Homo sapiens: one gene and its partner. The protein of the gene in region 1 interacts with the protein of each later gene in a biochemical or structural test. Each region holds a gene or a part of one and is shown on either strand. Other genes may lie near its edges. The genes, in order: LIN52 and DYRK1A.

Region 1 (8,167 bases):
CCTGCCTTGGCCTCCCAAAGTGCTGGGATTACAGGCATGAGCCACCATGCCCAGCCAACAGTGGTCATATTAATTTGAAGGTGGAGGGGTAGGATAGTTCAGTGGTGCAGTCTAAGATTAAGAGGCATACACCACTTGGTAGACTAATGAAAGCTCGTTGTGAACAACAGTATATCAATGAGGCAGATCAGATTCCAATTTGATGGGCAGCCAATTAATGAGACAGACACACCTGCACAGTTGGAAATGAGGATACAATTGATATGTTCCAGCAGCAGACAGGAGGTGTCTACTACAAAGGGAACCTGCTCTTTACTGCAGAACTCCATTCCCACAGACCAGGAATACATTCTCAGAAAACTACAACTCCGTTGAATTCCATCCTGACTACAAAAGTGTAGGGTTTTTTTTGTCCTTTCGTGTACCCCTTTCTCATTCCTTTACTGTGCATAAAGTGACTGGCATTTGTGCACAAGCATATTACCTTTTTATTTTTAAACTAAATGGCCAATGATATGTTTTGATCAACATCAGATGGAGATAAGATGGGGATAAATACTGATTCTGTGGCAATGCCCCCTTTCTCCATTAGTGGCATGCTCATTCAGCTCTTATCTTTATACTTCATTAAGTTATTTTGCCTCATCATTTAATAAAAATCAATAACAAAAAATCCTTCCATGCTTGAAGCTAGTAGTTCAAGATCCTGTCTCCACAAAAAAAAAAAAAAGAAAAAAATTAGCCAGGTATTGCATGCCTGTAGTCACAACTACTTAGGAGGCTGAGGCAGGAGGATCACTTGAGTCCAGGAGGTTGAGGCTGCAGTGAGCTATGGCTGCACCACTGCACTCCAGCCTGGGTGACAGAACGAGACCTTGTCTCTTATAAAAAAAAAAAAAATCCTTCCATACCTTGTTAAATTTGAGAATTTTGGTGTTTTTCACGTGTCATTCTAAAACCAACCAGTTTTTAAACTCTTGTACATAGCTGTTACATGTAGGGCAATATGTCTTTAAGTAGGGATAAGTTACTCTAAAAGAAATGAATCTTAGATAGTTTTCCCACCAGGCATCCTATTGCTTAAGTAAACTTTCTGTTTGAAATGAAACAAATAGTTTTACAGTAGCTAGCATTTATTGAATGCCTGTGTGACTTTGTATTAATCCTACCTTGAATGAATGAGGAAAGGAGCTCAGAAAAATAACTTGGTAATTTGCCTATGTGGCCCAGGGTCAATGTAAGAGCTGAAGTCCTGCTCTTTTCACAATATTACATTGTCTCCTTTGTTTCCTGGCCACTCATATTACAATCTCCTAAAAGCAACCTGTTATTGCTCTTCTGAATATGAGAAACCCAGTGGAAAGTAATTTGTCCCCGCTTCACAAACATTTTTAATTATGTTGAGGCATAGAAATATTTAAAGTAGTTTGCATTGGAATTGAAAAACTGAACTATGAGTTTCTTCCACTTCATTAAAAAGTTTCTTAAAATTTACATTGTTCCCTACATAAAAGCTGAGCAGAATTTTATCAGGCAATTGCCTCAAAGTTATAATCTGGACAATCTTTCTGTAATAAAACCCATATGTCATTGGGGAAAGGTGCAGAGCCCTGGCAGAGAGGGCTGGTCTTGAGAGAGGTTCTGCACCCAATCTCGTTAACCAGGGTGCCTCTGGTAATCCCTCATCCCTCACCAGTGAGAAATCAATCTGTACCACTGAATCTTTTTCAACCAGCCACCAGAAAAATTTACTGCAGAGAAGGCAGTTTGGGGATAGTTATCGTGGAAAGTGAGCCAGAAGCAAGGCTAAATGTAGGATGGAGGAATTGGAGAGTCTAAAGAAGAGATTATATTAAACCACACACCACTTTCAGAGCAGGCACAGTGGAGTCCTCCTTTCAGCCCTGACCTCTCCAAGTATACCCAGGTATTTACAGCTGCCATGAACTGGATAGCCCTGGAGGAACTACGAAAGTGGTGGGGGATAACAGAAACAGTGGAAACCTGAAAGTTGATTGTAGTCTATCCATTTGCTGTCTCTCAGTGTGTAGTAGCCAGTCCCCTCTCCACACTCTGCAGCATTTCACATGTTAACCCTATAGTGACAGTTTCAATTGTGGCTTTCTCAATTTGTGATCTATGTACGACATAATAGGGCCTGTAAATCATGACTTGACATAGGGGTCATGCTTCTCTCCTGCACGGCATACACCAGTAGCTGATGACCAGTGGGCCCCTCTTGGCATAGTTATTAGAATGGAAGCGGTGTTGCCTTCCTGTGAAACCTTGTAATCTTAGAGAATAAATCCAGAATCAAAAAAATAGTTGACAGGCTGGGCGAGGTGGCTCATGCCTATAATCCTAGCACTTTGGGAGGCCAAGGCGGGCAGATCAACTGAGGTCAGGAGTCCGAGACCAGCCTGGCCAACATGGTGAAAACCTGTCTGTACCAAAAATACAAAGAATTAGCCAAGTGTGGTGGTGCATGCTTGTAATCCCAGCTACTTGAGAGACTGTGGCAGGAGAATCACTTGAACCGGGGAGGCAGAGGTTGCAGTGAGCTGAGATTGCAACATTGCACTCCAACCTGGGCAACAAGAGCGAGACTCTGTTTCAAAAAAAAAGAAAATAGTTGACAGATTTCACTGACTCTATATAACACTCTCTCTCTCCCAATCTTGTTGTGTCTAGAATTGTTTTCTATATAATATAATACATTATGGGGAACAAAGAAAAAGGAGAAAATGGAGGAACTGGGAGTGCCAAGCTGAAGAACATGTAGTCTTACTCTGGCCATTCATCCTAGAATTATACCAAGCTACAACCATTGTGAAGAAGAAGGGACAGAACCAGGCAGTGGGGAATAGAAATGGCTTTCTCTTCTCTGTAAGCAGGCAGTAGTCATCTCTAAAGATTTTTCCCCAAAGAGATTTGAAATTCCTGATGGGAGCTTAAAAAGCTAAGAGTAAAATACATTTATTTATAAGACCCTACTAGAAGAGGTGTGTGTGGGTGTGTGTGTGTATGTGTGTGTGTGTGTGTGTGCGCGTGTAGACGAGGAATACAGAATAGTAGCAGAAGGCTGTCTCCCTACTCCTAATGGGATTTTGTAGCAGTATGTGCAAGTTTGTTTCAGAAGTCAAAAATGAACAGATGTTAGTATAAATTACCTCTGTGTCTGATGTCTTGCAAATTAAAAGCGCAGTTGGCATCACTAAACAATTTCACTAGGTTTGGGGGGGTTCGGTTAGCGGGCGGTGATTACTGTAGCAGGTCGGTAAGAATCTTCGCCCTGCAGCAGAGCAAGGATAAAGAAATGAGGAATAAAATAAGGGCTATATGAATTAATCAGAAATGTTAACATCTCTGATGACAAGTGAACAGGAGGGCACGTGCTCTGGAGCAGCCCCTGACCCACAGCAATTTCTCTGTGCACAAAAAGGGGTTGGTGCTTAGCATCTGATTTATAGGGCACAGCCCTCTTTTAGGGAGCGGCTGTGTCATACATTCGTATATCTCCTGTATGGGACTGGCGAGTAGGAAAACTTTCTCTCCTCCCATGTAGGAGATGATGTCTTTTGAATTACTTCTACTTTTACAGTGGTTTCCTGCAGCTCTGTGTACTTGGATTAGGTTGAAGGGGGAGGAATGATTGAGTAGAAAAAGGGTTGTTAAAAAGGATTGGTTAAATTCAAGGAGAGCTTGCCACTGAGAGACTTCAGAATATCTATTTATTTTTCCTTTTAAACCCTTTTGACCCCTTAAATTGTGTGGATCTTTTAAAATTCTAAGTCTTAAAATATTGGTCATTTTCCCATTTGGGGAAAAACAGTAAGGAGTTGGTGAGTCTGAAGGTCAGCAGGCAGAAATCATTGGTTAGAGCAATGCAGTGCTCCAGGCCCAGGATTTTTGGAACAAGGCTCTATTCTCTCCAGAAGACTTTTGTATTGACCGTGTCTGGTTTCCAGAGCTCCTGCTTCTAGCCATGTTGCAGGATCATTAGTTACATGTTTAAACTTGAGAGTAGACAGATAACCCATCTAGTAGAAATAAGTGAGACCCAATCTGCCCAAAAGTATAAGTAAATTTCTTTTCCTTCAAGCTGAGGGAAAAGATTCCAAGGAACGGAGTTTTGTTTGCTAGCCTCCCTTTGTGCAGTTTGTTCATTCATTCATTCATTCATTCACTCACTCAGAAAATACTAAGTGCGAGAGAACTTACCCCCCTCTGGAAAGTGTTGTGTTAATGATTAGCACTATACCAAGCATGTTCATTGCTAATATCCAAGAGAAAAGTAGGGTATTAACATGCTCTCCGTTACAAATGAAGAGACTGAGGCTCAGAGATCTGCCCAGCCCAAGGTGTCACCCTGCTGCTAAGTGCTAGAGCTGAAACTTAAACTGAGTTCAAATCCTGTGTTCTCTGCAAGAAGCCCATGCTACCTCCTATGGGCAAGACAGTACTTGATTGGATTTTCTCTAGAGTAGTTAGTCCTTGACCCCAGTCTCTCCATGAACTTGGCATTATTTGCATTAAGGGAAATGATTTTCTTGCCAAATAAGCAAGGCACATTTAAAAAGACTCCCATCATGTAGAGAATGGAGCACTGAGGGCCACTAACTAGTCATATTTGTTAATGGAAAGGAAGGAAACTAACATTTTTTGCATTTCTACTTGGTTCTAGTTCTTTGGTGTATTATAATTTATCCAGTCAACACTTACTCAGCAGACACTAGGTCTGCTGAGTCTGTAGCAGGTCGGTAAGAATCTTCGCAGTGCAGCAGAGCAAGGATAAAGAAATGAGGAATAAAATAAGGGCTATATGAATTAATCAGAAATGTTAACATCTCTGATGACAAGTGAACAGGAGAGCACGTGCTCTGGAGTTTGGATCTGATTGTGGATCTTTTGCCAAGGGAGAGAAGACCAAAGCTCTTAACAGTCTCTGCCTTCAGTTTTTACATTTTAGTGGAGGAAGACAACCATATAAGCTAGTAATTGCATGCAAGTCTTATGGGAACTTTCTTGTACAGGATTTGCTGTAAATCCATGAAGGAAGGAATGGTCTGTTTGATTTGGTCTGGGTTGGGGTTGTGAGCACATGAGGCAAGACCCAACACTGGGCTTCTATGCCTAGTTAATGGAATTTCCTTTCCCTTTGTTGGGGCACAGGAACTAGTGAAAGATGGGGAATGTATAGACTGAAGTTACAAAAGCCTCCCTGTGGTCCCAGAGGTTGTGTAGTTTTTATTTCTTCATTGTACAAGAAAACAAGAAACTGTTAAACTTAAATTGGGGCAGAGGGGAGCTGGAGGCCATTCATCTAGCTCCATTTGCTCTGGACTTGGGAAAGGCAACAAGGAGGCCAGGGTGAAGGTCCTTCTCATTCCTGAGAGTGCCTCCCTAGCCACCTCACTTCTTTGGCCAGGACGGAGATGTGTTCTTGGGAGACCACACAGCCTACCCCGTGCCTACTGCATGGTTCCAGAAGGCCTGGCTTCCAGAGCCAGCCATCAGCGATCAGAAACTTTCTGCACTGTTAAATCCATTTAAGAAATCTGAAAACATGGCCTTGCAGGATGAGGATGAGGATGAGGAAGGGGCTGTTACACTACGTATGCTTTCTGAGATCTAAAATGGGAGACCTCTGGAGTAGCCCTTGTAATTGAGAAATGTTTTACTTTCATTTTGGAGCCTTATATGTAGGAAAGTAGCTGTATAAACCCACTTGTAACTATAGCATTCAAAGATTGATGGTGCTGAAAGCCGGAGAAAGACACATAAACCTTGGCTGGCTATATTAAATAGCTAAGGACTGACAATGCCAAGGGAGAGAAGACCAAAGCTCTATAAACCCTACTTTATGACACCATCCACAGATGAACTGCACTGAGGGAATATAAACCCTGTTATATTACAGTATCCAGGGACTAACACTGCTGAGAGATAGGGTAAATGATCTCTAATTTTGATTTGAGATTATAAATGTCCAGAGACCAGCAACCCAGAGAAGACTAATCTTGGTTGGATTTTAGGCTTCAAGAGCAAACCCCCTGAGATAGTGAACATGAGTATTAGGTTAGATTCTAGAGACAGAGATAGGTTTTGGGGGAATCCCCTGGTGATTTGTTTAAAGGTGGATGATAAAATCTTTCCCAGTCATTTGGCATGTATCTCAATTGCCAACTTCAGAATAGCTTTGTACAGTTTTAGTTGTCTATAGTGGTTTGTTTTTACCCCCTTTTAGGTTAGTTGGTGATGATTGAATCTGTTGTGATAGCAACTTGATATATAATTTAAATCAATCTGCATTTTTAAATTAAATCTTCCTATGATTCTTTTTTCCGATTTTAGGTTTTCATTGATCATTTGTTTGCTTTGTGATTCCAGCCAGAGAGATGACACGGGGGAAATTCCTCAATATTCTAGAGAAGCCCAAGAAGTAGCAGCTGCTTGCGGACAGGATGTCCTGGGGTCCGAAACCAAGCTCCCTTCCCGGTGCACCTCTAACAATGCACACCTCACTGCTTGCTTGGGAGAGGCCAGAGGGTGTACCTCCAGGACTGCCCTCTCCCCTGCTCCTGGCACTCTACACGTCTGAGGACATTCAGCAGCAAGAGAAGAATCTGCTCTACCCAAGGATCATTGCAGTTACTCAATCAACTTTCAGACTTGAACCTTCTTAGCCTCGGATATTGGTAACAGCTGAGGGCATATCATTCTTAAAGGTCGAAGTCCTGCTTTCTCATTTCTGGAAGTGATTCAGGAGCCCCAGGATCTTACGGTTGATTTGACTCAGTCATGGCAGTCAGTTGTGACATGTTGATTGGATGGGTTCTTTTGAATTGTTCTTGATCTCTTAGAAAGTGTTTACGATGTGAGGAGACCAGAGACCAAGTAGATTCTGGACCAGACCATGCAGCCTGACCTGTGAACTCTCCAGTATATACTAAGTTCCCAGAATCCCCAGCTGAAGAAACCAGAATCTTCTCGAAATGTATATCTGTTTTTTAAAACTTCTATACCTCTTATGATAGTCCCATTTGCTTTTCATTCCTTACTTCCCAGCCCCACCTTCTAGTTCTGACTTCGGGCAGAGGGATCCCTGAGTCCCTCCTGGAATTAGCTTGTATAGTGAAAGGCCCATCCAAGGTTGTCTAAAGACCAATGTGAAGGTGACAGAAAGGACTTTTGAGTTCTAATTAATCTGTTACAGCTTCAAGCAAGAAAGTCAGTATAGCCTGAAAGACAAGAGAAACGGGATGGTTTATAGGAGTTCCCATTTGGTTGAAAGCTAGAAGCCCTAATTGACCTTAAAGTAACATGCTATGGGATGGTGGGATTGTCCCCTCTGACAGCACATATGAAATAGTTCATCTATATAATAGAAACGCACACACACGAAAAAGAATCTTCTGACTTAAATACAACTTTCATGGAGTTCTTCACCACTTATCTGTCTCTGTTAAAATCTGAAAATCTAGCCCATGGCTAAAATCTATTATATGTGTTCTCCATATTTCTTGTATAAGCCAGTCCCCAGCATCTGATGTTTTGAGAAGTGCATGGAGTTTCCTAAACTTTGCACAAAAGAATATCCTGGGGCCGGGCATGGTGGCTCACGCCTGTAATCCCAGCACTTTGGGAGGCCGAGGCAGGTGGATCATAGGTCAAAAGATCGAGACCATCCTGGCCAATATGGTGAAACCCTGTCTCTACTAAAATACAAAAATTAGCTGGGCATGATGGTGCATGCCTATAGTCCCAGCTACTTGGGGGCCTGAGGCACGAGAATCGCTTGAATTCGGGAGGTGGAGGTTGCAGTGAGCCGAAATTATGCCACTGCACTCCAGCCTGGGCAACAGAGTGAGACTCTGTCTCAGAAAAAAAAAAAAAAAAAAAAAAAAAAAAAGAATATCCCTGTGGCAATAGTCTGATGGTGTTTGGACACAAGAAAAGTTATGGTTTTGAGTCGTGAGTGTTTGCTAGGGCATGGCACTCTTCAGTTTAACAGCTGATCCATTAAACCTTTTCTGACATTTGTGCCTTGTTCTCATGCTAGAATTAATGCTGGATTTTTCTCTCATTTGACCATCAATGTAGTTTTACTTATTGAAAGGAAAAAAGACTTAACACAAGATAGGAAAGATGAGTATGAGAAGTAAAA
Region 2 (8,167 bases), on another chromosome or scaffold:
ATAATCTCAGCTACTCAGGAGGCTAAGGTGAGAGGATCGCTTGAACCCAGGAGGTCAAGGCTGCAGTGAACTATGATCATGCCACTGCACTTCAGCCTCAGTGACAGCGAGACTCTGTCCCAAATTTTAAAAAATGGGAGCTCTGTGAGCTGACATGGAAATATTTCTAACATAGGTCAAGTAAAAAAAAATGCGGGGCACGGTGGCTCAAGCCTGTAATCCCAGCACTTTGGGAGGCCGAGGTAAGCGGATCACGAGGTCAGGAGATGGAGACCACCCTGACTAACATGGTGAAACCCCATCTCTACTAAAAATACGAAAAATTAGCCGGGCGTGGTGGCAGGGGCCTGTAGTCCCAGCTACTCGGGAGGCTGAGATAGGAGAATGGCGTAAACCCAGGAGGCGGAGCTTGCAGTGAGCCGAGATTGCGCCACTGCACTCCAGCCTTGGGGAAAGAGCGAGACTCCGTCTCAAAAACTAACTAAATAAATAAAAAGCTTAAGTTGCAAAACTGTGTGTTTAGTATGTCTGATCCCATTTGGTTTGGATTTTAAATACACAGACACTGTGTACATACACACACACACACCTGTCTATGCACTTAAAAATAATGGAATCATACATAGTTTTCTAACACAATACATACTAAAAGTATAATATATATAATTGTGTGTGTATATATACACATGCATACATTTCTGGTAGGAAAAACTGAACAGTTATTATTATGGAACATGAGAAGGGGGAAATGATCTGCTATCATTCCACAGAGCTTGTTTTTTTAAACTATATACTACTTGTGGATCTCTTTAAAAACTAGAATATCCTAGATGATCAGAACCGTACCTTATATGTTTGATAACACTGCTCAAATACGGGCCCTAACAAATAAGACAGTAAGAAAACAGGGACACTCCCTCTAGTCCAGTAGTTAATCAAGCGCAGGGTCCTAGGCAGAATTACCCACAGTGCCATTACCAACACTCTCAGTGATAGGAAGCCATCGAAGCAAGCTAACACTACCAACCTCTGGCCACCAGAGAATACTCACATGAACCTTCCCATGACCATACCACAAGGTGATATTTCTTAAACATACCCTTAAAAAAAAAATTGAGACGAAGTCTCACTCTGTCGCAGTGGCACGATCTCAGCCCACTGCAACGTCCGCTTCCAGGGTTCCAACAATTATCCTGCCTCTGCCTCCCAAGTACCTGGGACTACAGACACTCACTACTGCACCTGGCTAATTTCTGTATCTGTAGTAGAGATGGGGGTTTCACCATTTTAGCCAGGCTGGTCTCGAACTCCTGACCTCGTGATCCACTCGCCTTGGCCTCCCAAAGTGCTGCGATTACAGGCATGAGCCACTGCGCCTGGCCTAAACATACCCTTCATTTTTCTCAGTAAAGGGCACATGGACTGTGTTCTTCCCTCCTTTCCAAAACATTCTTAGTGCAGGCATCATTCTGATTTCTGGACTGACACCTGCACTAAGCAGCTGTTCTCCCCTTTGACCACTCCCAGTGGAACTCCTCCCAGCACTCAGACTCTCTCTTCTCTCTGCCAAGCCATTCTGTCATTCTGTTCTTCATCTCCTCGTCTGCTTGTGGGGCCTGCGGTTTCAGGTTTATATTGGTATAGGAAGAGGGGGGCTTGGCGGGCCAAAAGGCAACTTTTGGGTGCAAAAACAGGCATGCCTGTTCCAATTTAGGGCTATGGGTTTTCAGGCTAGATCTAATAATAATAACTGATACAAATAAAGTGTTAACCTCATAACAGGTAAAGAATATTCCTCCAGGGCTGGGTGTGGTGGCTCACACCTATAATCTCAACACTTCGGGAGGCCAAGGTCAGGAGTTGGAGACCAGTCTGACCAACATAGTGAAATCCCGTCTCTACTAAAAATAACAAAAAATTAGTCGGGTATGTGACAGGCACCTGTAATTCCAGCTACTCGGGAGGCTGAGGCAGGAGAATTGCTGGAACCCGGAAGGCGGAGGTTGCAGTGAGCCGAAATTGTGCCACTGCACTCCAGCCTGGGTGACAAAAGTGAAACTCCATCTCAAAAAAAAAAAAAAAAAAAAAAAGTAATATTCCTCTAGGAATATTCTAATTTTAAAATTTTAAACTAGAGAATTCCAGATTTTATCTTAATCTAATGAAATGAATTCCAACAGTGAAAATTACAAGCAACCTAAAAGGAAAGTAGTAATTTGAGGACAAGAACTACCTTTGTTCCTTCTAATCATGTCAAGTAAGTAGCTGCCTATACATCTATTCTAATGCTGTATATACATTGCCCACAATAGTGCTGATACTAACAAAACCTTACTTAAAACCTTCAGCTTTTCACCTTTAAATATTCACTTAACCTTTAAACATTCACTTGAGTATTTAAATATTCACATTATTTTTCTATAGGGCAAAAAGGACAACTGGGCCAACCATTCACTAGACATAAGCTCCCACATTAAAAGCCACATACTTACTTTAAGATGATAACTATTCCTATAAAATCCCACTGCACTCTGTACACCTTGTCCTTTATTCCCTCTTCTGTAGAAAGAACAAAGAACGAAGAGTCAGGAAAAACAATGCTAGTCCCAGGCCTGCTTATTCTGAGGCACTGATTAGTCACTCAGCTTCTCTGCACCCACTTCCTTCTCTAATATGTGAGAAATGAACTTTATTGGTGTTTCTCAAAATGTTCCTACTGCATCAGGATTACCTGGAGTCCTTAAGAAAACAGATTCCAGCTAGGCCCAGTGGCTCAAGCCTGTAATCCCAGCACTTTGGGAGGCCAAGGCAGGCGGATCACGAGGTCAGGAGATTGAGACCATCCTGGCTAACACAGTGAAACCCCGTCTCTACTAAAAATACAAAAAAATTAGCCAGGCGTGGTGACAGGCGCCTGTGGTCCCAGCTACTTGGGAGGCTGAGGCACAAGAATGGCGTGAACCCAGGAGGCGGAGCTTGCAGTAAACCGAGATCGCACCACTGTACTCCAGCCTGGGCGACAGAGCGAGACTCTGTCTCAAAAAAAAAGAAAGCAGATTCCAGAGCATCACTCTAAACCTACAGAAAGAGAGGCATCTGAGCTTGGAAATCTCTTAACTTTGACAAGTTCTCCAGAAGACTGTTTGGGAACCATTAGTTTTCCCAAGTCTGTACTAGAGCTAATAATATTTCATAGTTTAAGGGAATCTTAGATATTTATATTTCTCTTTTTTCAAATCCACAGGAATTCAAGAGGAACATACTAGATAGTAAATGTACGTTTAAATATCTCTGCTATCATCCTTCTTGCAGTGTTCGGTGACTCAAATCTTTATGACATCCTGACAACATGCGAGTGTTATTGTAGCATTGTTTGCTGAGGGTATGAGCAAGAAGACATTCAGTTGGTCCAGTGGACTATTAACACTAAATGCAAAAGCTCAGATTTCAAATATTGCTTACGTGATACAAGCACAGCAATCAAGAACCATGTTTCTATCAGAAAATAAAGCGTCAGTAAAATAACTGTTATTAGACCCAAAATCCCTTCACTACTAAAAGTATAGCTACATTTTTCTAATCTGACCACTTACTTATATTTTGCATAACGGTCTATTTGAATTCACATACCATAGTTTAAAAAATTAATGATTAAATACAGAAAATAAACTTATTAACTAATGCAATCCATTGTATTTTCAAAGTCTATTTCTGGAAGCTTCTCCCAAAACATTTTGAAGTGTAACAGGCAATGTTTAATCATCCCCCATTCTCCCCTTCTTCAGTAGACCCAAATTTTCAGCCAAATAGTCACCTATCAAAGACCACATATCCCAGACTCCTTTGTATCTAAACATGGCCACATGACTAAGTTATGACCAATAGGGTATGAAGAAAAATCATGTATGCAACTTCCAGGTTTGTCTTTAAAGGGATGGAATGTGCCTTCCCAAAATCCTATTCCTGGACTGTGGATGTAGTGAGAAACTGCCTTGTACTATGAAGAAAATGGTAAGCACAGGAAAGCAACAAGACAGAAGGAACCAAGCTCCCTCACATCGTGGTGCCACCATATCAGCCTTAGATAAGTTATACTGTTGTTTTATGAAGGAAAAATAAATTTCTCGTTTAAGCCACTGTATTTAGTCAGAAACAGGCCCATCTACATTCTAACTGGTACATATAAGAAAGCTTAAATTTATCGTAACTCTTAAATATTAGCTACCAACCAACTCAGCAAAGCTAAAATTCTATACTCTTAAGTCACAATAGAGCTTCCTACTGAATAACCCCATTACTGAGATTATTGCTACTGTGCCATTTTATATTTATATGGCATTTTACACTTCAGCACTTCATTATAGTGTCTCATTTCACATTCTCAAAATCCTGGGCAGGGCAGCCGGTGCTATCTATATCTGGCATACAGGATACTGAAGCGAGGAGAAGCTGTTTTGCCCAAGATGACATGGCTAAGGAGTGGTAGTCAGGAAGGATTCAACATACAGGTTCCGCATTCTATCATTCTATGAATCTAAACCCCCTATGTGCCAGGCACTGGAGTTACAGCCATGATCAAGAAAAACTTCTTCCTGTCCAAATGGACTTTAAAATTTAATGGAGAAATTAAATTTACAATTATATTAAATGAAATTTAATGAACAATTATATATAAGAACATATATGAATAATCATATTTGCAGTAAGGGTTGCAAAGAAAAACAAATGGTCCTGCTTGGCCAAAAAAAAGAATGCATGGCCAAGGAAGACTACCTGGTTTGGGGAAGGCCTCTCTGAAGAAAATATTTATGCTAGGATCACAGAATGAGCATGAATGAAGATGAGGAGAGAAAAAAGGAGGAGAAAGAAATCCATGAAGAAATGTACATGCATTATCTCAATTTTCACAAGATTCCTATGCTAATTACTATCAACCTCATTTTACAGATGAGGGAACTGATGTTTGGTGAAATCACTGTACCTAAAGTCACACAGCCAACAGAACCTGTTGAGACTCAGATCAGCCAGATTCTGGAGCCTCTGTTCATGGTTTCATGGGCAGGGGATCTTTCCACAGTATCATGCTGCCTCAACTGCTGTCTATAACTGGATAGCAAGCAGACAGACAGATGTCACAGTTCAAACCTTTTTTTTTTTTTTTGAGACAGTGCTCCACTCTGTCACCCAGGCTGGAGTGCAGTGACACAATCTCAGCTCACTGCAACCCCCCACCTCCCAGGCTCAACTGATCCTCCCACCTCAGTCTCCTGAGTAGCCTGGACTACAGGTGGCACTAACACACCTGTTTTTTTTTTGTTTTGTTTTGTTTTTTGAGACAGGGTTTCACCATGTTGCCCAGGCTGGTTTCGAACTCCTGGCCTCAAGTGATCCGCCCACCCTGGCCTCCCAAAGTGCTGAGATTACAGGTGTGAGCCACCACGCCAGGCCTCAAGCATCTTTTTACCCAAATACATGGGTGCCAAGATGCAAGCCTTAACCATACATGTCCATAACATTTTACGGACATGCAAAAGCTTTTGTGAAAAACCCAGAAGAGAAAATGCATAGCTCTGGTAGAAGAACCAACTGCCAAGATGTCGAAATGGCTCTATATTATCAAATAATATAGATAATGATAATACGGAAAAGCTTTTTGTGAAAGCTTTTTTAAAAATTAAAAAATCAAATCTTGTCATTGGAAATGTTATACACTCAAGAAAAATTAGGGGGTTATTTAATGAACAGGGATGTTATTTAAAATAGAGTTGATGCTGAAAGCCAGTTTCATTCTATGTTAAGCCAGTTCACTGGGCCCCCCCCAAAAATCAATTAAAACAAACTTTTCTAACATGGGGAGATAAAACAAGAATATTCACTGACAAGAACAAAGACACATTTTAAGCTATTACTCACTATGTATCAGATATGAGCATCTGCCCCAAACCAAAAAAAAATTATGTAACTTGTCAAAACCTAGTTTTAACAGTAATACAAACTTTTAAATATCGCTTTCTAGAAGAGAAGATACATAGCTCTGGTATAAGAACCAATTGCCAAGACACCAAAATGGTTCTACATTAGCAAAACATATATGCCCAAAAGAAACCACACCATTTCACGTGTTCAACGTAGGGTATTATCACCAATAAACAATTCTCACTCGTTTTAGTACTCTGGAAGTAGGATTTCAAAGCAAAAGCTTAACTTTTTAAATACCTAGCTGGCTTACGCAGTGCAATATTTCCAAATCATTTTGTTTCCATATAAAAAAATAATAATCAAACTAAGGCTGCTGGTAGCCAGTATTAACAAATAAGATCTTTCTTCAATTACCCAATATGAACGAACCTTCAATGATTATTTTAGTCACATGAAGTCTACATTTCACTTTCAAACACTCTATGGTAAACTTTACAACTCTAGCTTAAAATTGTAGCACTGACATAAGGCAAGATTTCAAAAAGCTTTCTTCATTTGGGAGCAACTGAGGAGAAATTTTAGGTAATTTAATATAATTTGCTGATTTTTCCAAGTAATTAAACACAAATTTTAACTCTCCAAACTTTTTAATCCAAAGTTGAGCAAGCTTTGGGTCATAAATTACCACCTCTCTAGCCATCAGAAAATTGCCCAACAGTCAAGATAACATCTGGTAAAAAGTCTTTTAAAAGGCAAAACCACCATATATACATAAGGTGCTATTACACTGGTCACACAATTCACTTTCACAGAGCAAACTGTTAGTATCAAGTTTCAGGAAACATTACTAATAGTTTCACGTAATATCTTTACTTCTAAATCGAAAATAGACGAACATATATGGAGGTAAAATCACCAAAACACTCAACAGAAAGTAAAGATTCTTGGTTCAGTTTAAATAACTGCTTATGATTACTACAAAATAAGACTAACACAACTTTGGGGATGAGGAACTAAATTCTTGATAAAGACTTTCTGGAAGTTTTTGGGTTTTGCTGGGTTTAGATAAGTTTTTTCTTGGGGAGGGGTGAAACTGCTTCCTGTGTGTGTACAGGAAACGTGAAAGCCTTCTCAAATATGAGGAAAGCTAATGCCAAAGCAAAGACAAACTGGCACACGCCTAATCACAAATACCAAGAAAGTCACAAGTGAAGCCCACTCTTCTACTAATCTTGTGTTCAGTGGCACAAGATTATAAGGCAATTCCCTTCTCGCCTATAATACAGTTAATTCTATCCACATTTTCTTCTCATAACTAGATACTTGTCAACCATAAACAGACACACGAAAACACCTCAGGGCAGCCTAAATTTCCAAGCTATTTCTTAAAAAAAAAAAAAAGGTTTTCAAGTGAAAACAAAGATTCAATCCAAATTAACACTTCGTGTAGTTACAAAACAAAATGCATGCCAAAGGTCACTGTATACCATGTTTATAACAAGGTATCTTGAATTTTCCTTTTGCAGATAGTCATAGCCCTCTAAAAACCTAATGTAAATTACCTAAATACATTGTTGCAGTTACCTAGGCCTCTCCACCCCCATATCTTTAAGTCATAAACAGTAACTCTCCATAAGTAACACGAAGGAGCAAACATCAGACAATATTTTGGAGGGGAAAAAAAATTTAACAAATGGTCGTTTTTACTGTCCACATTCCCTAACAAGACATTACACTAATATGGAATGTTTTAAATTATCTTAAATGTTACTGCCTCTAAAAAACTGGACTTATTTTTAGATATCTTGCACACAATAATGTGTTAAGTTTCTAATAGGTTCCACCAAAATATTGTTAAAAGGTTTAAGAGATGATCTTATACTTAGATCTCAAAACAAAGATCTCACTAGGTCATTTAGTCCATTTCCCACCCCTACCAATAATTACCATTCATTCAGGTCTATTCCTTCAAATATTTTTTCAACACCCACCAGGTAAAAAGGAGTGTGCCTTCATGGCGCAAACACAAGGGGTGACCCTTCCTCCTGCAATAATCTCTGAGCTTATGCCTCTCGAGGTAAAAATGAACTTTTTACAAGAGAACTTTTTACTAGTCTTAACAAGAGAACTAGGTGTAGACATTGACAGAAATCCTTAACTTTCTGGCATGGTTTGAAGTATAAATAAATTTGGACAGCTACCATAAACACCACTGCTATACCAGGGAAAATCCTCCAAAGTACTGGGA

What was found.
Region 2: of the proteins of LIN52 (region 1) and DYRK1A, one has a biochemical effect on the other in vitro, tested with the Homo sapiens proteins (3 studies listed by BioGRID).

Annotation. Positions count from the first base shown.
Region 1 is NC_000014.9:74,192,532-74,200,698, forward strand, and holds part of LIN52 (protein lin-52 homolog), read left to right. Parts: intron 1-54; exon of another isoform or gene 55-746; intron 747-6,390; coding exon 6,391-6,446; 3' UTR 6,447-8,167.
Region 2 is NC_000021.9:37,369,443-37,377,609, reverse strand, and holds part of DYRK1A (dual specificity tyrosine-phosphorylation-regulated kinase 1A), read right to left. Parts: intron 1-8,167. UniProt on the Homo sapiens protein: Dual-specificity kinase which possesses both serine/threonine and tyrosine kinase activities. Exhibits a substrate preference for proline at position P+1 and arginine at position P-3.